Homo sapiens: one gene and its partners. The protein of the gene in region 4 interacts with the protein of the main gene of each other region in a biochemical or structural test. Each region holds a gene or a part of one and is shown on either strand. Other genes may lie near its edges. The genes, in order: SERPINB3, CLDN3, CST5 and CTSS.

Region 1 (4,233 bases), on a different chromosome or scaffold from region 4:
AGGGAAGCCTGCTCTGCAGTTTGCAAACCACAGCCTCTTCTGCTTCTGCCTTTTGCCAGATGATATTGACCTTCGGTGACCTCTTTCTTGCGCCAGCCCGCACTCCGCTTTTGCATTGCCTACATGGCACCAGTATAAAAATATGCATGGACAGGAGATACTGCATCTATTCAGGGTCTGGATTCAGCTTACTATAATTATAAATAACTAAATTTGGTAATATATAGTTACATAAATTACTCTTACTTCCTACTTTCTTCCTTCATATCTCAAAGGAATATTTAGATGCCATCAAGAAATTTTACCAGACCAGTGTGGAATCTGTTGATTTTGCAAATGCTCCAGAAGAAAGTCGAAAGAAGATTAACTCCTGGGTGGAAAGTCAAACGAATGGTAGGAGAGCCACCCATTATAGAAACACCTTTGAGAAATCTATGCGAGTGAGCCCTATGCCTGAAACTGCATGGGGGACCATGGGTGGGAATTGAGATGGCTTTGCAGGGAGGGAAGAAGAGGGCACTCCAGATGAAGAGTTTTTCCAAATGATTATGAAGAGAGCCTAGGGGAGCCAAGGAGGAAATCACAGGAAGCCAATTAGAAGAAAACATAGCCGGAGGATTCTTTGCTCATGTTCCTGGATGACAATAGCTTTGTGGATCCCTTGTCTCCACTCAGGTCCAATTTGAGATCATGTCCTTTACTTTAAATCAGAACCAATATTTTATGATGAATATTTAAAAGGAAACATTAGAAAGCATCTCCCTTCCCCTTTACTAATTGGGAAACAAGCAGCTCTCTGGTAAATCACCCTTTTGCCATCTGAACTAGAGCTGCCTGGATCACATCTCTAGCCACAAGTTCTGCAGGGATTATCACAGCTCTCTTCCCCATCAAGGGCAAGAGCTTAACAAATTCTCCATTCTATAGACATCTATCCTACCTCCCACCTCTCATTACAGGCCAAACTTACAGCAACTCAACATGAGAGTGAATAGGAAGATACCCCCGGAAGTAGTGTCTGACAGCACAGGACATGCGTTTCATATTACAGAGCTCATGTCACTTGTCCTAAAAAGCAGTCAGGGCCTACTTCCTCTGAATGGGGACCCCGTAGTTAAAAAAAAAAAAAAAAAAGTAGGAAGAGGAGGGAGGGAGAAAGGAAAGACACATGTTGAAAGAGTAGACAAAATCAGTTTATCAGTATTCCAAATCAGATGAATGGACTCATTCATACACAGAGAACGTGAACTCCTTCTCTATCACAAGAAGTGATGTCTCCATTAAGGGCAACTTTATACGACTGGAGCCTTGAAGAAAGCTGCATCTGGTGAACCACTGGTCAGTGAGTCTAACAATTCAAAGATCAAAGTCAGTGAGTCTCAAGTAGGGATTTGGGTCAATAATTAACGATCAGTCACGAACATTTGCAAAGCATCTTCCAGACAAGCCATTTGTAGCTTGTGTAAAAGACTCTTTTATTCTTTCCCTTGCAGAAAAAATTAAAAACCTAATTCCTGAAGGTAATATTGGCAGCAATACCACATTGGTTCTTGTGAACGCAATCTATTTCAAAGGGCAGTGGGAGAAGAAATTTAATAAAGAAGATACTAAAGAGGAAAAATTTTGGCCAAACAAGGTATTGTCTATATTTTATTTATATAATGTAATATGTTAATAAATTTAAACATTTCTGATGGAATGTACCATGACAAGTAAAAAATAAAATTGTTCATGTCTGTTTTTTTGTTGTTTTAGTCTTATAACTTTATTTAGTTAGGAATTCCTGAAGAAGCTATTGTCTCTAACTCATTACATTCTTGGATTATTTCTTAAAAGAAGGATGTGTTGATATCTCAATAATATTATCTTTTTGCCTTGTGTCTCACTTGGTATTTGTTGGACACATTGATTTATTGTAGAATACATACAAGTCCATACAGATGATGAGGCAATACACATCTTTTCATTTTGCCTCGCTGGAGGATGTACAGGCCAAGGTCCTGGAAATACCATACAAAGGCAAAGATCTAAGCATGATTGTGTTGCTGCCAAATGAAATCGATGGTCTCCAGAAGGTAAGAACTTGCATCTACAACTCTTCCTTCTACTGCCTGACATTTTTCCAAAGATACCAAGTTTAAACAAGGTAAAAGCTGGTGACCGAGTTGCCTCAAAATAATGAAAAATTCTAAATGAGGAATGATGACTCACCTTCATATTACAAAGATTTAAGCATAGGGCCTGACACAAACTGAAGGCATAGTTAATGATTAATTTATTAGAGTTACATGCATTGGATATCAATTTAATGATATTATTATGCAGCAATTTAAACTTGACTGGGAGAAATATATAGCAATGTGAGGAAAGTTTACGAATACACCAAGTAAAAAAGGGAATAGAAATTTAGGAATTTGGGGAATTGCAATTTAATAATTGCAATGTGTACTAAATAATGTATACAGAAAAATAAGATGAGCCTATTAAAAATTGACACATGTAGTAGGCTGTTGGCACAAGAAATAGTGATATATATAGTTCATTGTGTACAAAATAATGTAATCATATTTTTACATGTGTATCATACAGTTGTATACATACATATGTACACATTACATATACATAAAAACTTGATTCTGTTTATACACATACACATATAACCCAATGTATTTATATATCCAGGACTCATATTTTGCCTATTAGAATAATAATATCTAATAAAGTGAACCTTCTGTATTTCACATTTGTTGCCAAAATAAGGATTCTCCACATAGTCAATTCATTGTTAAGGTGTATTAGAAATCAACAGTTAGTCATATCAGTTTCTTTTTTCCATTTGTATAGCTTGAAGAGAAACTCACTGCTGAGAAATTGATGGAATGGACAAGTTTGCAGAATATGAGAGAGACACGTGTCGATTTACACTTACCTCGGTTCAAAGTGGAAGAGAGCTATGACCTCAAGGACACGTTGAGAACCATGGGAATGGTGGATATCTTCAATGGGGATGCAGACCTCTCAGGCATGACCGGGAGCCGCGGTCTCGTGCTATCTGGAGTCCTACACAAGGCCTTTGTGGAGGTTACAGAGGAGGGAGCAGAAGCTGCAGCTGCCACCGCTGTAGTAGGATTCGGATCATCACCTACTTCAACTAATGAAGAGTTCCATTGTAATCACCCTTTCCTATTCTTCATAAGGCAAAATAAGACCAACAGCATCCTCTTCTATGGCAGATTCTCATCCCCGTAGATGCAATTAGTCTGTCACTCCATTTGGAAAATGTTCACCTGCAGATGTTCTGGTAAACTGATTGCTGGCAACAACAGATTCTCTTGGCTCATATTTCTTTTCTTTCTCATCTTGATGATGATCGTCATCATCAAGAATTTAATGATTAAAATAGCATGCCTTTCTCTCTTTCTCTTAATAAGCCCACATATAAATGTACTTTTTCTTCCAGAAAAATTCTCCTTGAGGAAAAATGTCCAAAATAAGATGAATCACTTAATACCGTATCTTCTAAATTTGAAATATAATTCTGTTTGTGACCTGTTTTAAATGAACCAAACCAAATCATACTTTTTCTTTGAATTTAGCAACCTAGAAACACACATTTCTTTGAATTTAGGTGATACCTAAATCCTTCTTATGTTTCTAAATTTTGTGATTCTATAAAACACATCATCAATAAAATAGTGACATAAAATCATTTTTGCTTTACATTTTCTCTCTGGAAAGGGAAAGTGTCCAGTTACACACAGGAAAGACAATTTAGAGATATATTAATCACAAACAAAGGAAAATTAAAAACAGAGTAGTTCATGATGAGCCTGGAGTAGAAGGCATATCCCAGAACAGGAGGAGCCTTGTAAACCACATTAGGAACTTCCTATTTTATGCTAAAGGGATAAGAAACTCATTACAGGCTTTGATGGTTGTTTGTCAAAGAGGGGCATAAAATTATCATATCTTCATCTTGAAAATACATCTCTGGTTACTCTGATATCAATGGATGAGAGGAAAGAACAGTGTGGTTACCATATATAAATCAGGAAATCATTAGAGTATTGGGGGTGGAAATGAAGAGAAAGAAACAGCCTGGCAGAATTATTTAGGAAGTAATAGTTAAAAAAAGACATCTAAGTTTCTGAGCTATCTGACTGGAAGGATGGAAGAAAATGTTGTTTTTGAGAGAAAAAAAAGACCATGGGTTTAAATTTGTACTTGATGAAT
Region 2 (6,388 bases), on a different chromosome or scaffold from region 4:
CTTGCTCCCTTGCCCAGATTGGAGTGCAGTAACACAGTCATAGCTCACTGCAGCCTCAAACTCCTGGGCTCAAGCAATTCTCCCACCTCAGCCTCCCAAGTAGCTGGGAACTACAGGTGTACACCACCATCCCTGGCTAATTTTTTTTTTTTTTAAGTAGAGACAAGGTCTCGCTATGTTGTCCAGGCTGGTCTTAAACTCCTGGCCTCAAGCGATCCTCCTGCCTTGGCCTCACAAAGTGCCGAGATCACAGCCGTGAGATACCGCCCCCTAGTCACATTTATTGGCCATTTTTATACATTCTTTCTCTATTCTAAATGTCTGCTCAGTTTCTTTGGCCATTTTTTAATTGGTTTATTTGTCTTTTTATTATTGAGTTGTAGGAATCATGGTAGGTATTGAGCAAAAAGCTGATTGGAGCTGTGTTTGCCCAGAGGCAAAGTCTTATTTGCAAAGTCCCTGAAGTTTGGCCTCTGGGCATGAAGCTCTGTCCTGCTGGCCTCATCTCAGTGCAGCCCTGCCCAGCAGGTCCACCTCCCCCAGGCTCAGGGACAAGCCCCAAACCCAAGCAACTCAGGACAACTCTTGTCTCACAGATGGGGAAACTGAGGCTCAAGGTGGTAAAAGGACTGGCTCAAGCGCTCGTGACCCAGGAGAGCAAAGCCAGGCTCAAGTTCAGATCTACCTTTTCTCTGTACAATTTCTCTGGACATATACATGCCCTGCCTGGCTGTTTTCTGCTTTTATAGCATACTTAACATCGCCTCTATTCTTACCATAACCCTGGAAGTGAGTCATGCAGACACCATTTCCCTAATTTTATAGAGGAGGAAACTGAGGCTAAGAGAGGCGACGTGACTTTCACCAGCCTCAAGGCCAGCAGGCGTAGGGCTCACAGTGCCCAATCCAGGCACAACTGGCAGTGCAGTGGGGACCACTCTGGGCCTCAACCCCTAGTCTAAGCCCAGCCACACCACCTGGAGGGTCTACTTTTCTTCTGGCCCAGAGCCACCCCCACTCACCAGGAAACTGTAGCAGCCAGTAGTCCACTGGAGGACTTGAGTTATATGAACTTCCTCTAGAACAGCTCCACCCAGCACCAGCTGGGCCCTCTGGACTGGCACTCCCAGATCTGCCCAGGCCCTGCCCAACAGGTGCAGCCCAAGACCTTTGCTCCTGAAAGAAGTAGAACCCTGGTTTCCATGAGCCCCTGACACTGTTTCTTACTCTTCTTCTTCTTTTCTTTTTTTTTATTTTTTTGAAATGGAGTCTCGCCCTGTCGCCCAGGCTGGAGTGCAGTGGTACGATCTCAGCTCACTGCAACCACCGCCTCCTGGGTTCAAGCGATTCTCATGCCTCAGCCTCCCGAGTAGCTGGCACTGCAGGTGCATGCCACCACGCCCAGCTAATTTTTGTATTTTTAGTAGAGACGGGGTTTCACCATGCTGGCCAGGCTGGTCTCGAACTCCTGACCTCAGGTGATCCACCCGCCTCAGCTTCCCAAAGTGCTGGGATTACAGGTGTGAGCCACTGCACCCAGCCATGTTTCTTGCTCTTCTATCATTCCAAGGCTTAGGCATTTACAGAAGAGGGCACAGGCTGCATGCCTGTGATTTGAGATATGGAGGCAACCCCAAAAAACCCCAAGGCCCAGCTCAATGGGGTCTCTCTTCTCTCTGGAAGAGCCCTTGACTCCTACAAGATGACCAAGCCCCCTTGACTCAGCACAGCAGTATCCCTTTATCAGTCATTTATGCCAGTAGGAAAGCCTGGGTAGGCAAGGTTGAAGGAACATGAGAAAGTCTTCCCTTCATTCAAGTCACTAAATCGACTCTCTGTTGAGTACCCAACACCATTCTAGGCAATAGGAATGCAGCAGTGAATAAAACCAGCAAAATTCTTGCCTGTTCTGGGACATTACAGATGTCCCAATGGAGCTGACATACTGGAACAGAAAGAAAGAAACAATTTAAAAATTGGCTGGGTGCCATGGCTCATGCCTGTAATCCCAGCACTTTGGGAGGCCAAGGCGGGCAGATCATGAGGTCAGGAGTTCGAGACCACCTGGCCAATATGGTGAAACCCCATCTCTACTAAAAATACAAAAATTAGCTGGGCGTGGTGGCACGTGCCCGTAGTCCCAGCTACTTGGGAGGCTGAGGCAGAAGAATTGCTTGAACCCAGGAGGTGGAGGTTGCAGTGAGCCGAAATTGCACCACTGCACTCCAGCCTGGTCAAAAGAGCGAGATTTCGTTTAAAAAAAAAAATAGGCTGGGCACTGCTGCTCACACCTGTAATCCTAGCACTTCGGGATGCCAAGGTTGGGGGATTGCTTGAGACCAGGAGTTCAAGACTAGCCTGGGCAACACAGTGAGACCCCATCTCTACAAAAAAAAATGAAACAATTAGGTGGGCTTGGTGGTATATGCCTGTAGTCCCAGCTACTTGGGAGGCTATAGCTAGAGGATTGCTTAAGCCCAAGAATTCAAGGCTGCAGTGAGCTATGATAGTACCACTGCACTCCAGCCTGGGTGACAGAGCAAGACACTGTCTCTAAAATAAATAAATAAATAAGTTATTGAACGTTCCCAGCACAAAGAAATAAAAGTTTGAGATGATGAATATGCCAATTACCCTGATATGATTACTATACATTCTATGTATTAAAACATCACTGGGTGTGCCACGCGTAGGTACGATCATTGCCAATTTAAAATTTTTTTAAGTACAATGAAACATAAATAAGAAAAATATAGAATATTGTCCGATGGTGTTACATGCTAAGCAGAATATAAAGTATTAAAGGGGGGCAGGCATTGTGGGGTAAGAAACTGCAATTTTATTTTATTTTATTTTATTTATTTTATTTTGAGACAAAGAGTCTCGCTTTGTCACCCAGGTTGGAGTGCAGGGGTGTGATCTCAGCTCACTGCAACCTCCACCTCCTGGGTTCAAGCAATTCTCTTGCCTCAGCCTCCCGAGTAGCTGGTATTACAGGCGTGTACCACCACGCCTGGCTAATTTTTGCATTTTTAGTAGAGACGGGATTTCGCCACGTTGGCCAGGCTGGTCTGGAACTCCTTACCTCAAGTGATCCACCCGCCTCAGCCTCCCAAAGTGCTGGGATTACAGGCGTGAGCCACCGTACCCAGCCAGAAGCTGCAGTTTTAAATAGGGTGGTCAGGGAAAGACTCACTGAGAGCAAAAAGCTGAAGGCAGTTAGGAGTAAGCTATGTGGATGTCTGCAGGCATGTTCCATGTACAGGGGACAGTAAGTGCAGGGACTCTGAGGCAGGGGCATGTGGTATGCAAGGGCTGCTCTGAGGGGAAGAGAGGGGATGGGGTTAGGAACAGCCCAGGCTGAACCTCCAAGGCCAAATCTGAAGGGCTCTGAGCTTGGTGAAGAAGGGGGAACGATCGTCCAGGTGTGACAGCCAGGGCTTTGAGTGTAGCATTTCTGACTTCCCAACCTTTTTTTTTTTTTTTTTTTTTTTTTTTAAACAGGGTCTGCTCTGATGCCCAGGCTGGAGTGCAGTGGTGCGATCATAGCTCACTGCAGCCTCGAACTCCTGGGCTCAAGTAATTTCCTGCCTGAGCCTCCGGAGTAGTTGGGACTATAGGCACACGCCACCACACCTGGCTAGTTTTTTAATTTTTTGTAGAGACGGGGTCTCACTATTTTGCCCAGGCTGGTGTCGAACTCCTGGTCTCAAGCAATCCTCCCTTCTCAGCCTCCCAAAGTGCGAGGATTACAGGAGTCAGCCACCACGGTGCTCGGTCCTGCCCGATTTCCCACTTTTGCGGAGATCGAACCTCTTTCACCACCATTTCATTAAGGTGGGCCTCAGCCCTGACTCAGGCTCAAAGGGAGGGAGGACAGGGCTCGGAGAGGGGAGGGGACTCAATGGGAGGAGGGGGACTTCTGGGAGGGGAGAGCAGCTTAGCTAAAGGCATGCAGGCTCACGGCCAGCGATGGGAACTGGAGGGAGAGCTGGAGAGGAATTTGAGCTTAGTTAGGCTTAAGGGCATCTTTTGGGTACCTTTGCGCAGGCAGTCCCTGGCTTCTGGGCCCAGCAATTCCTGGGCTGGACAACCCCACCGCCCGGACTCAGGCTGAGCCTGTGCGACGTGTGTACGGGAGGGGCAGAGCAGCAGGTGCGCGGCTCCTGCAAACAGCCGCGGCCACGCCCACCCTGGTCCTCCCCGCCCCGCCGTTCCGGGGTAATTGGCAGCGCCCCCATCCCCACGCGGCACGTGCCAAAAGCGCCCAAAGTGGTGAGGAGAGAGAAGCCGTGTCAAATTCTTTGGGATTTGCACCCCAAGCCCCTGACGCATCCCGTCCTCGGTTTTGCCCCGGAGAATTCATTCCCGAGCAGAGAGGGACAAGGACCGAGGGGCGGGGGCTGGGTCAGGTCCCGCCCTTCCTTGGCAACCCCCCTACCCCGGCGTTGTGGGCCGCGCAGGGCCAAGTCCTTCCTCCCAGGACGCTCGGTGAAGGTGGGAGGCAGGGGCCACGTCACTGTCCTTAGGCCCTGGAGAGCGCGGCTCCGCCCCTACCGCCCCCACCGGAGCGCTGGGCACTTAGCTAAGACGCACCGGCCCCAGCCCAGGGCCAGCCCAGTCGCCGCCGCCCGCCCACAAAGCCACAGGCAGGTGCAGGCGCAGCCGCGGCGAGAGCGTATGGAGCCGAGCCGTTAGCGCGCGCCGTCGGTGAGTCAGTCCGTCCGTCCGTCCGTCCGTCGGGGCGCCGCAGCTCCCGCCAGGCCCAGCGGCCCCGGCCCCTCGTCTCCCCGCACCCGGAGCCACCCGGTGGAGCGGGCCTTGCCGCGGCAGCCATGTCCATGGGCCTGGAGATCACGGGCACCGCGCTGGCCGTGCTGGGCTGGCTGGGCACCATCGTGTGCTGCGCGTTGCCCATGTGGCGCGTGTCGGCCTTCATCGGCAGCAACATCATCACGTCGCAGAACATCTGGGAGGGCCTGTGGATGAACTGCGTGGTGCAGAGCACCGGCCAGATGCAGTGCAAGGTGTACGACTCGCTGCTGGCACTGCCACAGGACCTTCAGGCGGCCCGCGCCCTCATCGTGGTGGCCATCCTGCTGGCCGCCTTCGGGCTGCTAGTGGCGCTGGTGGGCGCCCAGTGCACCAACTGCGTGCAGGACGACACGGCCAAGGCCAAGATCACCATCGTGGCAGGCGTGCTGTTCCTTCTCGCCGCCCTGCTCACCCTCGTGCCGGTGTCCTGGTCGGCCAACACCATTATCCGGGACTTCTACAACCCCGTGGTGCCCGAGGCGCAGAAGCGCGAGATGGGCGCGGGCCTGTACGTGGGCTGGGCGGCCGCGGCGCTGCAGCTGCTGGGGGGCGCGCTGCTCTGCTGCTCGTGTCCCCCACGCGAGAAGAAGTACACGGCCACCAAGGTCGTCTACTCCGCGCCGCGCTCCACCGGCCCGGGAGCCAGCCTGGGCACAGGCTACGACCGCAAGGACTACGTCTAAGGGACAGACGCAGGGAGACCCCACCACCACCACCACCACCAACACCACCACCACCACCGCGAGCTGGAGCGCGCACCAGGCCATCCAGCGTGCAGCCTTGCCTCGGAGGCCAGCCCACCCCCAGAAGCCAGGAAGCCCCCGCGCTGGACTGGGGCAGCTTCCCCAGCAGCCACGGCTTTGCGGGCCGGGCAGTCGACTTCGGGGCCCAGGGACCAACCTGCATGGACTGTGAAACCTCACCCTTCTGGAGCACGGGGCCTGGGTGACCGCCAATACTTGACCACCCCGTCGAGCCCCATCGGGCCGCTGCCCCCATGCTCGCGCTGGGCAGGGACCGGCAGCCCTGGAAGGGGCACTTGATATTTTTCAATAAAAGCCTTTCGTTTTGCACTCGCTGGAGCCTCCTTGTTCCCAGCGCCTCCACCTCCCTGCAGAGCTCCCCCTCGGGGCGGCCTTGGCTGGATCTCGCTCTCCCGGATGGAGCTTAGAGGGAAGATGGGGTTGTAAGCTGAGCTTGGTGATGGCGGGGTGGTCACTTGCCCACTCCCTGGGGATTCGGAAGACAGCCTGTGAGGCCAAAGCCAGCGCCCAATCTAGGAAGCAGGCATGAGCACTTTCCGCACGCCATGGCTGGGGATGGGAGGGGAAGGTGGCAGAGATGTGCCCCTGGGTCTGTGCTGGGAGCCCGGACCCCGCACAATACCCGACACATTCGGAATCTCCCGTGCGCCTTGTGAAAGAGCGCATTCCGTACTGCCATTTCCTATTGGAAAAACGAAAACAAAAAGACCTATTGTTTGGATAAAACACGCCACCAAAAGTAAAACCGGGCCAAATCTTCTCACCTGGGGGAGAGATGAGAAAGGGTCCCCATCTCCTTCCTGGGACCC
Region 3 (7,653 bases), on a different chromosome or scaffold from region 4:
TAGGGGTTTCTGGCTGAACTGACCAAACAGGATTCTTGCTAAAGGCAGGACACAGCCTTAGACATCAAAGCTGAGGGATGAGGAACTTGATCAGATGTCAAGGGTGATCAGACCCCAAGGACAGCAGGATTCTCCCTAAAAGGAAGCAGGATTCTTTCCTAAAACTGAGCAATGCAGACCTGGCAGGTAGGAGCTGGAGACCAAGGTTGAGGCCTAGTGAAGAAGGCTCAGAGGAGCCTTAAAGTTTCGTTAGAGAGTCTTTTCACTGGATCCAGCTCCTCTGTGACAGGAGGAGAGGGCAGGCAGGGCCACAAGAGCAGGCAGGCTGTCCTGATGGCCTCTGGCTCCAGCTCCAGCACCCACTGATTGAGTGTAACAGGATTCCAGGCAGGAACAGGAACCACTCTCCACAGCCACTGCAGTCTGCTAAAGGAATTGATATTTAAGGTTAGACAAACAGTGACAGGGAAGTCCCAGCAGTGACCTGAATGGGGATTAGAAAGGAAACTCTCACCACACAGAGATGCCAAGGGGATTGCTCTCCCCTCAGAGCCATCTGTATTCTCCTGGGCCAGGCCCCTGCAGGCTGGGACCAGGGAGTTGGGGGAAGTCCCTGGGTGCATCAGCAAGCAACCCGAGTTCCCAAGGAACTCTCCCTGTCCTCTCCACTCGGCTGTGGTTCTCTAGCCATGGCTCTGCTAGGAAGAATGTACTCCTTGAGAAAATAAATAGTAACCTTGCAATCTAAAATCCTAAGTGCTGTTTACACATTGATCCCTGAGCAGGAAACTTCCCAAGGATTCTCTTTCCCTCCATAAAGGGCCAAACTCTCAGACCTCAGATCCTGGGCTCTGTACGCCCTTTTCCTGTAGGGGCTTTGGGCATGCTTCACAGCAAGTACCAGAGTTCATAATAATGTGGCCTCATCCCCATCAGAGCCCAGATGCTTACCAATGGTGGCCAATGGTCCAGGAGTATCTCAGGTCCCCCACAGTTGGGAGCAGGGAGGGGGAAGGAGGAAGGGTGTGCATAAGGGACAAGCTTGACCCCAGAGAACTCGCAGCACTCCATAAAGGAGGATTCTGGGCTTCCCCTTTGAGAAGCCAACAAATCCCGTGGCTGCTCAGTCCCATCTCCTATCACAGACACTGAATGTTAATTGCTCAAAACCCGGATGTGCAGAATCTCAACTCTTGGCCAACTTGATCTAACCACTTGCACTTTAGGTGATGTTTATGCCCTTAGGTATTTATTGGTTATAATATTGTTTAGTGTTTCCCTTTACTGCTTATTTATTATAGAGAACTTCTGTCACTCACCTAATTTCTCACTCTACTAATTCAATCATGGGATCAAGTTACACACGCAACCTGGGAGAACACGGCTTTCTCTTTCATCCACTGGCAGAAAGGAAACATGCCCCCTCCTGGGCAACTGGACTCCTCCAGATTACGAAGGTGCTGGAGGCCCCAGGCTTGGTCCTGAGTCCATTGTTTATCTCTGGGTCCCTGCCAGCCTGTCATTGGAGCTGTAAGCTATAGGAACTAAGTCTCCATCTTTTTTTGAGATGGGATCTCACTGTGTTGCACAGTGTGGTCTGGAACACCTGGGTTCAAGAGATCCTCCTGCCTCAGCCTCAAGAGTAGGTGTACAGGCATGCCATAACACTGGGCTATTGTAAATTTTAACCACACTTAAATGTCACTGCAGAATCAAACTTATCTTGCTGGTTTTGAACCACCAGACACCACCATTTACAAAGCAGCTCACCTTTCCATATGCATGACACATAGAGAAGGCAAAACATTTTCCCAAGGTCACCCAGCAGCTGGAGCAGCTGTCCATCTACCCTAACCTTCCACTTACCATCACCCATACTGGATGCATCTCTTGTAGTTCCTGAGAGTGCCCTACATGGGGGTCTGACTACAAAGATTAGAGTGGCCACTGTATCAGGCCTGTTGACCCTCCCTATAGCTCATTCCAGTGTCCTGACAGAGGATGACCACTGGCGGTGGCATCACATACAGGGAAATAGGCCAGCACTCCAGCTCCCACCCCATACTCCACCCACCACCATATGCCTGTTATGTGGATGACCTGCATCTCCTTCCTAATGATAAAAGATAGGAGAGATTTGTATGTATTTCAGCTTACCCTCTGCACAACACATCCTCCTGAGAGTTGAGACCTAGCGGCCAGGGAAGGTGGGAGCCACAGAGGAGACCCAACTCCCACACTTGGGAGATGACCATTCTGCCCACAAGCACCTGGCCAGGGACTGCCCTCTCTTTCCCTTCTCTGGGAATCTCCCCCAATTTCCTGTCTAACTAGGAGGCATCACGTGCAGCCCTGCTTGAAGACCTTCCCTCCCTCACCCAGCAGTAAACACTATCCCTGGGCCACCTGCTGTATCTGCTGGAGTGCATGGCTTTTCTAGGGGTGCTGGATTCACAGTGGGGTGCAATGGTCACTGGGCCTTGGGTAAAAAGGTCCCCTGTCCTCATACTGAACATGAGCACCCATGAGTAATATTGTTCCCGCTGTCGGGTTCCTGCTGATGCAGCCCCAGCCATGGCGGAGCCCCAGGATTATAGCAGGTCTGGGCTGATCCTGGCCGACCCTCACCTCCACCACTCCCAGGAGAGTCCTCTGGGTGTCCTGCTAAGGCCCAGGGTTTCCTGGTGTTTCTGGCCAAGCCTGCCACCTCGCCATAAGGGCATTTGCCGCAGGATCACCTTCAGGCATGGAGGGGGGGTTGAGAGAACAAAGGGAGCAGCTGTCTGTTCAGAGCCTCCTTCCACCCTCCCTACTCCTGAAGTCACATTCCAGTCCAGGCCCACAGCATCCCGAGCTGGGGGCTTTGTCAGCCCACAGGGCACCCAACTGACCACATCCTCTCAGTCTGTGGAGAAGGAGAACTCTCAATCCTGGCAATGAAGCCACGCTGAGCAAAGGACGAAGACACACCTGGGCTCTCTCTGCAGGATTCCATTCCTGGGAAGCTCAAGGACAGGCAACAAAGGAGTCCACAGGACCAGATGTGGGCTGCCAGGGTCGGGTGGGCATGAGGGTGGGCTTCAGAGGCAGGAGGAAACCATCTGGGGTGAGGCAGATATCACAGGTGTGGACAAAGTGGTAACACAAGTGTATGCATTTATGAAATCCCCCAGATTGGGCACATACAATTAGGCATTTTATTGTGTGTAAATTCTACCTCATTCAATGTAATTTTTAAAATATTACATGAGTTTTCCAAGCAGTGTACAGAGGACCAGTGCTGGCAGCACGTCTCCCAGAGGGGAGGAGCAAGAGAGGCTCTTGGGCTCCCACATTCATCCTGTGGCTGCTGCTCCTTCTCCTGACACCCCCACCACCTGCCAGGGGTCTCCCTGCGCCTTCCACCTGGACACACCCACAGTTACCGTGAGACTCCAGGTCGTTCCCTTCCCTGCTCACACCCCCTCCAGGAGCTTCCTCTTCCTGGAGCAGGCATGCCCAGCCTTGCCTCAGGGCCTTTGCACTGACTATTCCCTGCTGCCTGGGGCTTCTCAACCTTTCCGGTCTCTTAGAGACTTCCCTGACCAGGGTCCAGTAGCACCCACCCTCTCTCTAACTGAGCGACTATAATTCCCTGATCTAAATTGTTGATCACCACTCTGCATCCTCCCACACACCCTAATGGCTGGGCTATGCAGTACCACAGCCACCAGCAGCCACTCGTGGCCACAGGGCACTTGAAATGGGGCTAGTCCACAGTGACGCTTGGTCTAACTGTAAAAAATACACAGGGAACTTCAAGACATTACACTCACACAAAAGAATGTAAACTAGCTCCTTAAGAATAGTCCTGAAGTGTTGAAGTATTTTGGATATATTAGGTTAAAGTAGAAATACCAAAATTACTTTCAGCTGTATCTTTTAACTTTTTCAAATGTGTTTTAAATTGCTCCTGGGTTTCTGTCACATCTCTGTTGGATGGCAGCTCTGCAAGTTCATGTCTACGGCTCTATTGCCCAGACTGCTTGGTGCAGGGGGAAGCTGGTGACAGGTTTGTTTATTGAATAATGAGGAGTTATGAAACGAGAACCCAGTGAACTTTACCCAAAGGTTAATTACTTTATGTTTGGCAAAGAAGTTCCCCAGAAGAGGGCATGGACAAGGTCATCCCGGAGCTTCTGAAACAGCTCCCTGCCCCAGGAATTCCCAGACCATGACCACGTGCTCCTGGATGCCCCTGACATCTGAAGACTTTAGAAGGCCAAGCCCTGTATTTCTCCCTTTCCTGTGGACATAGGTGGTCACCAGGTTTCACAGCCCAGGGAGCGGTGTCACCTCTCTGGAATCCAGAGTGAGCCAAGCTTTAGAGCACTGAGGAAGAGGGGCAGGGCTGTGGGGAGGTTGCGGTCAGGACAGGAGTGGGGAGGAGGATGAGGAGGAGGCATGGGAGGAGCGAAGGGAACTTAGGGAGGGAGGGAGGTGGTTGGGGGTGGAAAGGGAGATAGAGACAGAAGAGGAGGGGTAGAAAGAGGAGGAGGAGCCAGGGGCGGGGCCAGGGAGCAGGTGGGGTTGGGGGACACCCAAGTAGGATAAATGCACAGCTAGCTTCTGGCCTGGGCTTCCTGCCTCAGCCTTCTGCTGCTTTGCTCTCTGGGAGATCCAGCTCCTTGCTCTGTGTCCCAGTAGAACATGATGTGGCCCATGCACACCCCACTGCTGCTGCTGACTGCCTTGATGGTGGCCGTGGCCGGGAGTGCCTCGGCCCAATCTAGGACCTTGGCAGGTGGCATCCATGCCACAGACCTCAATGACAAGAGTGTGCAGTGTGCCCTGGACTTTGCCATCAGCGAGTACAACAAGGTCATTAATAAGGATGAGTACTACAGCCGCCCTCTGCAGGTGATGGCTGCCTACCAGCAGGTGCGTGCTACCACCACCCTGGGGGTCCTGAGTCCCAGCTGGGTTTTTTGCCTCACCCCCCAGAGCACTCCCAGCAAATCAACATTATCTAAACCGCAGACTCATTCAGCTTTCTCTGACTGTCTGCTGATGGTCTTCATGCCCTAGGACACTCCTTGGCCGTGAGTGCATGAGTTCAGCCCTGTCCTGTCCCCTCGGCCTCTTTTAACCTGCAGCAGCCACTGTGTCTGTACCATGACTGTGGCATTTCCCAGGGTCCAGCAGGTGTGGATGGAGACTGTGCTGACTCTGGGTGGGCTTGATGCTGCTCAGGATGAGATCCAGGCCACGAGGTTCATCTTCCTCCCTGAGTCCTCTCCACAGGGGCCACACGGGAACCTGACTCCTTGTCCTGGATAGCCCCGCTTCCCTCCCAAGTCACGCCCCTGGGCACAGCCCGTTATGGCTAGTGGCCTTCACTCTCAGGCTGGCTGACCACCCCCTACAGCCCAGGACAGCTGAGTTCCTGCTGGGGTAGAGCATGCCTGACCCTGCCTCTGCCAGCTAACGCAGAGTTAGACCTCAGCAAAATGAGGACAGCAATCACCCAGCAGAGTGAAGGAGGTGGTTGGGTCCAGAGGGAGGAAGCTTCAGCAGGGCTACCGAGCCCAGCTTGACCTACGTCCCATGGCAGAGCAGCAGTGACACAGCGACCACAGGGCTATATGGCCTGCCAGCCTTTAGAGCTCCTCCACCTTCTCTTGGAAAGTCAGAGGAGTCCAGACCAGCCCTGTTTCTCCTCCTGCAGCCCTCTCCCTGCACAGGAGGGGCATTCCCTGGTGCTGTGGTCCCTGCTGGCCTGCACTCCCTCTTAAGTGTGTCACTCACTGGGAGTGAAGCACAGAATGATGTAGATCGTTGGGCCCTGGAGCCTATTTTACAGAGCAGCAGACTGACACCGGAGGGATCACAGGACTTCCATGTGGTTCTACAGGACTTGTGTGTGGTTCCACAGGGCAAGGTCTAGCACCCTGGTCCCAGGGTCCCTCATCCCATGCTTCTCCACAGTTCTGACAAGTCATGTTTTGGGGCGGCACTGTGCAGGGAAAGCATTCAGTTCTCTTCTGAAGTTGCAACCCTAAGACATGCAGGTGTGTGACTCACTTTAGAAATATTGCCTTGAAAATCACACCTGGAATGGAGGCATGCAGGAGGCAATGTTTATTGGCCTAAAACATCAATGTATGTGAGCATCTCATCTCCTACTGAGAAATGAGGAAAAATACCTCTGGGTTAAATGGCAGGAATGAGATGCTCTGTGGACTGAATGCCAGGAGCTGGAAGTTAGCTGAAATTTCATCATCAGGTGGCAGCCTTCCTAGGATGGGACCAGTGTCCCTGCCCCCTGAGCACAGGTAGCAGAATTCAGTTAATCCTTTGCTGTGGGAAAGAGCATTCACTTGGTGCTTAGACCCTGCCCTGCAAGCCTGGTGCCAGGACTGTTTCTTTGTCCCACCCTGGCTGGTTCCCCAGAGCTGTGCCTTCTGTTCCTGAATCCAGTGAAGGGGGTTTTAGGCCCTGGCTTCCATCTGCCCTGCCCCTGCTTCTCTTTCTACTGGGCTGCATGAGACAGCTTGCTTGAGATACCCAGAGAAAACAAGTTACTAGGAAGGACTGGGACACACTACCACTGCCAGCCAGCAGGAGAAGGTGGCTTGTGTGCCTTTTGGGTGACAGTGTGGGCATGAAGCCCCAGGCAAGCCCAGTGACTCAGTCACAGTGAAGTGCCTGCGTGTGCATGAAACTGACAGCATGCTGCCCCTGCTTCCTGCTCTTCCACGCGTGTAGATCGTGGGTGGGGTGAACTACTACTTCAATGTGAAGTTCGGTCGAACCACATGCACCAAGTCCCAGCCCAACTTGGACAACTGTCCCTTCAATGACCAGCCAAAACTGAAAGAGGTATGTGCCTGATGTGGGTCAGGGGCATCAAGTACCGCAGAGCAGTGTGTGCATGTGTGTGTGTGTATGTGTGTGTGCACGCATCTGTACTCCTGCACATGCTTTGGAGGGCATGTGTGCATGTGTGCAGATATTTGTGGGGCCACGTATGCAAGGATGTATTCATGTGCATGGGAGGATGCATGTGTGTTTGGCACACATGTGCAGATGTGTATTGTGAAGTCAATGAATGTGTTTGTGCATATGGAGTTTTGTGTATGCATGAATGAATGTGTGGGATGGTGTACACATGTGGCTATGCATGTAGAAAGATGCATATGTGTGCATACATGAGGAAGATGCACAGGAGTGTGTGTGTGCATGTGTGTGGATGTGTGAAGGAGTATGTGGGTTCATGCATATATTCGTTTGGGTGAGGGTTGCTGTGAGTTAATATAGATGCCTATGTGTGTGCAGATGGAGTGGTGTGGATAGGGGTGATGAATTTGTTTTGCTAGGAAGACTTTAGCTTGGTAATGGTTACTGGGAGGTCAACTCTGCCTGCTTTGGGGTGTTGTCTGTTGGACTGGAGGAAGAAGCTGCTGGGCTGGGTTCTGGTCAGAAAGAAGGGGCTCTGTCTAACCCCAGCCTCAGGCACCTGCCTGCAGCCACAGCCACTCTGAGCACATTAGAAGGAATTAAATGCCTGTTAGCTGAGAAGCCCTGGACCTGCCCCAGCTCACCCAACATCAGCCTCTCCAAGAACCCAGGATTTCTTTCGAGGTCTCTGCTCAAGGCAGAGCCACACTCTCC
Region 4 (7,068 bases):
GTGTAAAACAGACAAAAGTAGAGGCTAGAGTTCTTTGAATATACCTCATTGTGATGATTTCACTTTGGATCCACATAAATGTTTTACATAATTATAAAATGAAATTACATAAGTGTAAAAAGCAAGCCCTAAAAGGAAGAAGTGAAATGAAACAAATAAACCTGTGTATGGAGGTGGAGCATAACCATACAGGGAACTATTCCAGGTGACTTCAAAACACAGTAATTGACTTACATCGTTAGCGACATTTGGCTTAATGGAGAAAAACCTGTCCCCCTCCACTTTAAAACCTCTAATTTGTTTTCATTAACAATCTTATTGGCGTAGGCTTGTTGTTGTTATTCTGCAATTTTACAGGATAAATTAAACAAGTACTTGAGTTGATATTTTAGAGAACCCAGATTTTTTAAGCATGTTTGAAAAGAAGTGCAGATATAAGATTGATGGGGTGAGTAAACCCTATAGTCTTGAATTTGAATTTGAAGTATCAGTGTCAGCTTGTGATTTATTTAATTTTTTTAAAAAAGATATTTCTTAGCTCTAGCTACTGAAAAGGCTTAGCAACAATGGTCAATCTGCTATCCCAAACACTGCTAGTTCCTAGATTATGGTATTTAAACATTGTTTCCACTAAAAGGAACCAGAGCTCCTTGGAGAAATGGCTGATTCCAGGTCTGGGGCAGGAATTGTTCAAGACAAACCTGCAATAGCCTGTCATATTAGAAAGAAAGGAAGCTTTTAAAGAGTACTAATATTATGCCAAATATACAAACTCTGTCTGCACCAAAGAGCCAGTTTGAATAAATTCCTACAGACCAAAAATGAGACAATATGAGTATCAATAAGGATAAAACTGGAATGGATTGAAACACATCAAATATGTTTAAATCCATGAATTCATAATGATATAAACATAACTCAATGGTTTCACAATATATGGAGCTTATTTAAATCTCAATTCAAACAAACTATTAAAAAATGTATAAGACAGTCCAGAAAATGTGAACATTGATAGGATGTCTGATGACATTAAGAAATTATTGTCTTAATTTCTTATGACAATAAAGTGGCTCACACCTGTAAACCCAGTACTTAGGGAGGCTGAGGTGGGCAGATTACCTATGGTCAGGAGTTCGAGACAAGCCTGGCCAATGTGGTGAAACCCCATCTCTACTAAAAATACAAAAATTAGCTGGGTGTGATGGCACATGCCTGTAATCCCAGCCACTTGGGAGGCTGAGGCAGGAGAATCGCTTGAACTCGGCAGGCAGAGATTGCAGTGAGCTGGGATCACACCACTGCACTCCAGCCTGGGCAAGTGAGTGAGACTCTGTCTCAGAAAAAAAAAAAAAAGAAAATTATTGTTCATTTATTTTAGATGTGATGATGGTATTGTGGTATTATATTTGTTTAATAGTCTCTGTCTTTTAAAGACACACACAGGGACATTTACGTATGAAATGACAGAATGTCTAGAATTTATTTAATATAATTCAGGTAGTGAGAGTGGGAATATAAATAAAATAAGATTGGCCATGTACTGATCATTGTTGAAACAAGACAATGGTTTCACGGCAGCTCATTTTACTACTATTTTTACTTTTACATGTGTTTTAAATTTTCCATAAGCAGTATCTTTTTAAAAAAAACTGTATGGCTACAAACACAAACATGTCTACTACAGCTGAGATGAATCAACATTATAATGATGTTACTTCTCCCTAAATTTATGCATATATTCAAATAAAAACTCTAATAGCCAGATGTGGGGGCTCATGCCTGTAATCCCAGCACTTCAGGAGGCCAAGGTGGGCAGATTGCTTGAGCCCAGGAGTTTGAGGCCAGCCTGGGCAACATGGTGAAACCCCTTATCTACAAAAAACAAAAAACAAAATCAGCCAGGCATGGTGGTGTGCACCTGTAGTCCCAGCCACTCCAGAGGCTGAGGCGGGAGGATCACTTGAGCCCAGGAGGTCAAGGCTGCAGTGAGCCATGATTGCATCACTGCACTCCAGCCTGGGTGACAGAATGAAACCCTGTCTCCAAAAGAAAAAAGCAAAAAACTCCAACAGAGTTTTTCAGGGAACTTGATAAACTGATTCAAAAAATTCATATAAAGAAGAGTTAACAAGTACAAAATACAAAGACAATGTTTAAAAAGAAGAACAAAGATAGGGTGGCCTAGATGACTTGCCTTACCATACGTGGAGACATATTACAAAGCTGTTTTAATTAAAACTGTGTGATACTGAAGTAGCAAAAGATAAAAAGAACAGCTTCATGAGCTCAGAAACTGACCTATCTATGTATGAGAATTTGGTGTACAATAGAGGTAGAATCAAAATTGGAAAACAAAGAAAATAAGCTCCCTACGTCATACCATACACAAAACTAAATTCCAGGTGAATTAAACACCTAAAAGCAGTAGCCATAGAAAAGATAAATAAAACACTCTCTGAAAGTATAAAAATAAGATGAGTGTATCTTTATTACATTTGGATGAGGAAAATTTTCTTATACAAAAACAGTATAGATTGATTATACGGAAAAGCTGAATAAAATGTTCTACCTCAACATAAAAAAATTTCATATAGAAAAACTCACTATAAACAAGACTAAAGGACAAGTGGAATTTCATAGGCTTATGCAAAGGAAGAAAAAATAAAATAAAAGACAAGTGGAAGACTAAGGGAGGATGTTTTTAAGGGTATATAACTGTCAAAGATTAGAAGCCAGAATATATTTTTAAAACACATACACCTTGGCCGGGCACGGTGGCTCACACCTGTAATCCCAGCACTTTGGGAGGCTGAGGCGGGTGGATCACGAGGTGAAGAGTTCAAGACCAGCCTGGCCAAGATGGTGAAACCCTGTCTCTACTAAAAATACAAAAATTAGCTGGACATGCTGGCAGGTGCCTGTAATCCCAGCTACTTGGGAGTCTGAGGCAGAGAATCGCTTGAACCTGGGAGGTGGATGTTGCAGTGAGCCAAGATCGCACCAATGCACTCCAGCATGGGAGACAAAGCACGACTCCGTCTCGGAAAACACACAACACACACACACACACACACCTCCCACAAATCACTAAGAAAATGCAACAATACAATAGAAAAATGAGCAAAAAAGATGAACAGGAAATTCACAGAAAATTCAAACGGTCAATAAATGTGTGAAAAGATCCTCAACCTCATTAGTAATTAGGAAAATGCAAATTTAAAAGATGATAGTTCGTCTTGCTCCCACCCCACCCAGGTAATCATTCTCAATTGGATATATTTGAGTGTATCCTTTTTTCCATGAATATACTAACACATACACACACACACACACACACACACGCATATTACTAAACTATACATATAGTATATATTAATAAAGACATTTTGAGTTTGATGAACGAAGGAATGGCTGAGTGAGAACCAGACAATATCAGATCATGAATGAGTTGTGTTAAAAGCAGTAAGACAGGTTTTCCTAGGAAATCATACAAGGAGCTGGGATTTGGGGAGCTTTATCTAAATCTCTTTATAACTAAATGTTTTCCATGTAAAAGTTGGTGTTTTTAAAATTCAATTTAATTTTTTTTTTGAGATAGGGTCTTGATATGTCATCCAGGCTGAAACACAGTGGCATAATCATGGCTCACTGCAGCCTTGTCCTCCTAGACTCAAGCAATTCTCCCACCTCACCCTCCCCCTCAGCTGGGACTACAAGCATGCACCACCATGCCCAGCTAATTAAAAAAAATTTTTTTGCAGAGACAGGGTCTCACTATATTGCCTAGGCTGGTCTTGAACTCCTGGCCTCAAGTGATCCTCCCGCCTCAGCCTCCCAAAGTGCTGGGATTATAGGCATGAGCCACTGGGCTCAGACAAGGGCTCTTCTTGATGGCTTACTGTATCCACTTTGTCCCCAAGACCATAGGGAAATGACTAGAGGTGACTGTACTAGCTAGATTTTAAATGAAACTGAAATGAAAGTTCACTTCCTCATTTTGAGTACCTCATGTGACAAGTTCCAATTTCTTTTCAAGTCAATTGAACTGAAATCTCCTTGTTGCTTTGAAATCTTAGAAGAGAGCCCACTAATTCAAGGACTCTTACTGTGGGAGCAACTGCTGGTTCTATCACGTATGTACTCTTTGTTCTTTTTCTCCCATTTGGTCTTCAAACACTCTGTGTTTGTAACTTGTTCTGCCTGCTAGGTTTTAAATCTTTGGTTTCAGGAAGTAAACTAAAAAATCGTGTCGTTCAATTTGCCTCTTCTCTATTTTTAAAAAGTTAATGTCTGCTTGAGCATCTAAGCATCTAAGTTGAGACTGAAACATGGCTTTCTTTGGAATATAATTTAAAGGCTTACATGTTTAAAATTCCAGATGTTTTCAATTAAAAAGAAATGGAAAAGAAAGTAGAATCCAGTTTGAGGGAGCTAGTCGCTGAATTTCTGTTGATGTCTCTTGAATTAAATACAGAAGTGGCATTTTAAAGAGTAGTTAATTGCCTCATTTGAAACAGATGTCTGATCATTAAAAAAAAAAAAACGTAAAAAGGAAAATTACCTACCTAAAGATGTGAAAGCAATAGATGAGAATTGTCTTTTAACTATCTGTAAAGACTGTGGATATTTAAACAGGTCAGTTAAGAAGAGCCCATGTATTCAAAAATTCAGGAGATAAACTGATTTTTCAGAGGTTTGTCTCTCTTAAGGATGATTTTTTTTTTTTTTTGAGAGAGAGAGAAAGAGATTTCCTTTGATTAGATTTGTTGGCAAATCCTGGAAAGTCCCTGTTTTCTAACCCTCTAGATGTGTTTGGTTTACCAGATATTGGGAAATTCCTGGAAATCACTTTTTAAAGTGCTACTAAGCATTGGAAGTAGTATTTCTGACATAAATCTGCAGCTGTTCCCTGTGACTATATATCCCAGGAATTTTCCTGTATAATTCTGTTTATAATAGTCTGTCCCTTTGATAGACTTTGCATTGTTATTTTCTCTTATGAAAACATGTGGTCACAACATATGCAGCTAATAGCAACACTTCCTATGTTACCTTTCCTTACACAGAATGAAACGGCTGGTTTGTGTGCTCTTGGTGTGCTCCTCTGCAGTGGCACAGTTGCATAAAGATCCTACCCTGGATCACCACTGGCATCTCTGGAAGAAAACCTATGGCAAACAATACAAGGAAAAGGTAGATTGGATTGCCACTCGAGCGATATGCTTTTAAAGGAGTACTGTTTTCTACCTCTTAAAATTGTGTTCTTACAGGCAGTGTTTTCAGTAAATATTTAAGCTGGGTGTGGTGGCTCGCGCCTGTAATCCTAGCCCTTTGGAAGGCCAAGGTGAGCGGATCACCTGAGGTCAGGAGTTCGAGACCAGCCTAGCCAACATGGCGAAACCCCATCTCTACTAAAAATACAAAAATTAGCTGGATGTGGTGGTGGGCGCCTGTAATCCCAGCTACTCGGGAGGCTGAGGCAAGAGAATCACTTGAGCCGGGAAGGCGGAGGTTGCAGTGAGCCAAGATTGTGCCATTGCATTCCAGCCTGGGTGACAGAGTGAGACTCCATCTCAAAAATAAATAAATAAATATTATGTACTTGTTTCTTGCCAGATACTGTTCTTGGTACCATACAGCAGGAATCAAAACAAAATTCCTGTTATGGAGCTTATATTATAGTGAGAGAGACAGGAAATAAGAAAATAAACAAGCAGATATGTAGTATGCTAGATGGTGATAAGTGTTGTAGATAAAAATAACAGAAGGCATGGAGAGTAGGAAGGGCCCTGGGTGGTGGTGGTGGTAAGAAGTCTATCTATATGACAGGAGGGTTAGGGAAGGCCTCACGGATAAGGGTGCCATTTGAGCAGAGAATTGATGGAAGCCAGGGAGCAAGCAAAATACATAATAGAGTGAAGGTCTCAGGCCAAGGGCAAATCAGCACAAGCTCCTGAGGAAGGGCCACATTTGGGATGGCTGAGGAGCGAAAAGGCGTTAATACCCACATAGTGTGGCCAGATATTGTTTCTTGACTATCACTTCCCATTTTGTACTTTTGTTTTTATTTCAAAGCACACTTGCTGATGTTAAGACCTTAACCCTACTGCTTTAAATAACTAAGTCCTGTAACTATGTAATATTTCTGTTTGTAAGCTAGCATCATATATTTATTTATTTGACATATTATTTTGTATAAAAATGACACTCTTAGGTCATACACTCTAAGTTTTATTTTTATTTATTTATAATTAAATAATAATTGTGTCTATTTATGGAGTACAATGTGATGTTATGATACAAATATACATTGCAGAATGATTAAATTAGGCTAATTAACCTATTCAGCACCTCACATACTTATCCTTTCATTGTGATAAGAACATTTAAAATCTACCCTTTCAGTAATTTTGACATATAAAATACATTATTATTATTATCTGTAGTCACCATGCTATGCAATAGATTGCTAGAATGTAGTCTTCTTGTCAAATGAAACTCTGTACTCTTTGCCTAACATCTCCCCTTTCCCTGTCTACCCTCCGCCCAGCCTCTGCTAACCACCATTCTACTCTCTACTTTTATGAGTTCAACTGTTTTAGATTCCACATGTAAATGAGATTATGCAGTACTTGTCTTTCTGTGCCTGGCTTATTTCACTTAGCATAACGTTCTCTAGACCCATCCATGTTGTTGAAAATGACAGAATTTCCTTTTTTTTTTTTTAAGGCTAAATAGTATTCCATTATGTATGGAATACAATATGTACCACACTTTTTTATCCATTCGTCTTTTAATGGACACTTTATAAGGTTGATTCCGTATCTTGGCTATTGTGAATAATGCTACAATGAACATGGAAGTGCAGCTATCTCATTGACATACTGATTGCGCTTCCTTGGGACATATACCCAGAAGTGAGATTGCTGGATGATATGGTAATTATATTTTTAGTTTTTTGAGGAACCTCCATACTGTTTTCCCAAATGGCTGTACTAATTTACATTCCTACTAAAAGTGTATGAGGGTTCCCTTTTCTCCACATCCTCACCAACACTTATCTTTCAT

What was found.
Region 1: the proteins of CTSS (region 4) and SERPINB3 form a complex in vitro, tested with the Homo sapiens proteins (one study listed by BioGRID).
Region 2: of the proteins of CTSS (region 4) and CLDN3, one has a biochemical effect on the other in vitro, tested with the Homo sapiens proteins (one study listed by IntAct).
Region 3: the proteins of CTSS (region 4) and CST5 form a complex in vitro, tested with the Homo sapiens proteins (one study listed by BioGRID).

Annotation. Positions count from the first base shown.
Region 1 is NC_000018.10:63,654,673-63,658,905, reverse strand, and holds the end of SERPINB3 (serpin B3), read left to right. Parts: intron 1-275; coding exon 276-393; intron 394-1,493; coding exon 1,494-1,636; intron 1,637-1,919; coding exon 1,920-2,075; intron 2,076-2,844; coding exon 2,845-3,249; 3' UTR 3,250-3,709; downstream 3,710-4,233. UniProt on the Homo sapiens protein: May act as a papain-like cysteine protease inhibitor to modulate the host immune response against tumor cells. Also functions as an inhibitor of UV-induced apoptosis via suppression of the activity of c-Jun NH(2)-terminal kinase (JNK1).
Region 2 is NC_000007.14:73,768,497-73,774,884, reverse strand, and holds CLDN3 (claudin-3), read left to right. Parts: upstream 1-4,614; 5' UTR 4,615-4,835; coding exon 4,836-5,498; 3' UTR 5,499-5,888; downstream 5,889-6,388. UniProt on the Homo sapiens protein: Barrier-forming claudin. Plays a major role in tight junction-specific obliteration of the intercellular space, through calcium-independent cell-adhesion activity.
Region 3 is NC_000020.11:23,876,713-23,884,365, reverse strand, and holds the start of CST5 (cystatin-D precursor), read left to right. Parts: upstream 1-4,617; 5' UTR 4,618-4,689; coding exon 4,690-4,920; intron 4,921-6,747; coding exon 6,748-6,861; intron 6,862-7,653.
Region 4 is NC_000001.11:150,762,763-150,769,830, reverse strand, and holds the start of CTSS (cathepsin S isoform 1 preproprotein), read left to right. Parts: upstream 1-4,052; 5' UTR 4,053-4,133; intron 4,134-5,066; 5' UTR 5,067-5,067; coding exon 5,068-5,193; intron 5,194-7,068. UniProt on the Homo sapiens protein: Thiol protease. Key protease responsible for the removal of the invariant chain from MHC class II molecules and MHC class II antigen presentation. The bond-specificity of this proteinase is in part similar to the specificities of cathepsin L.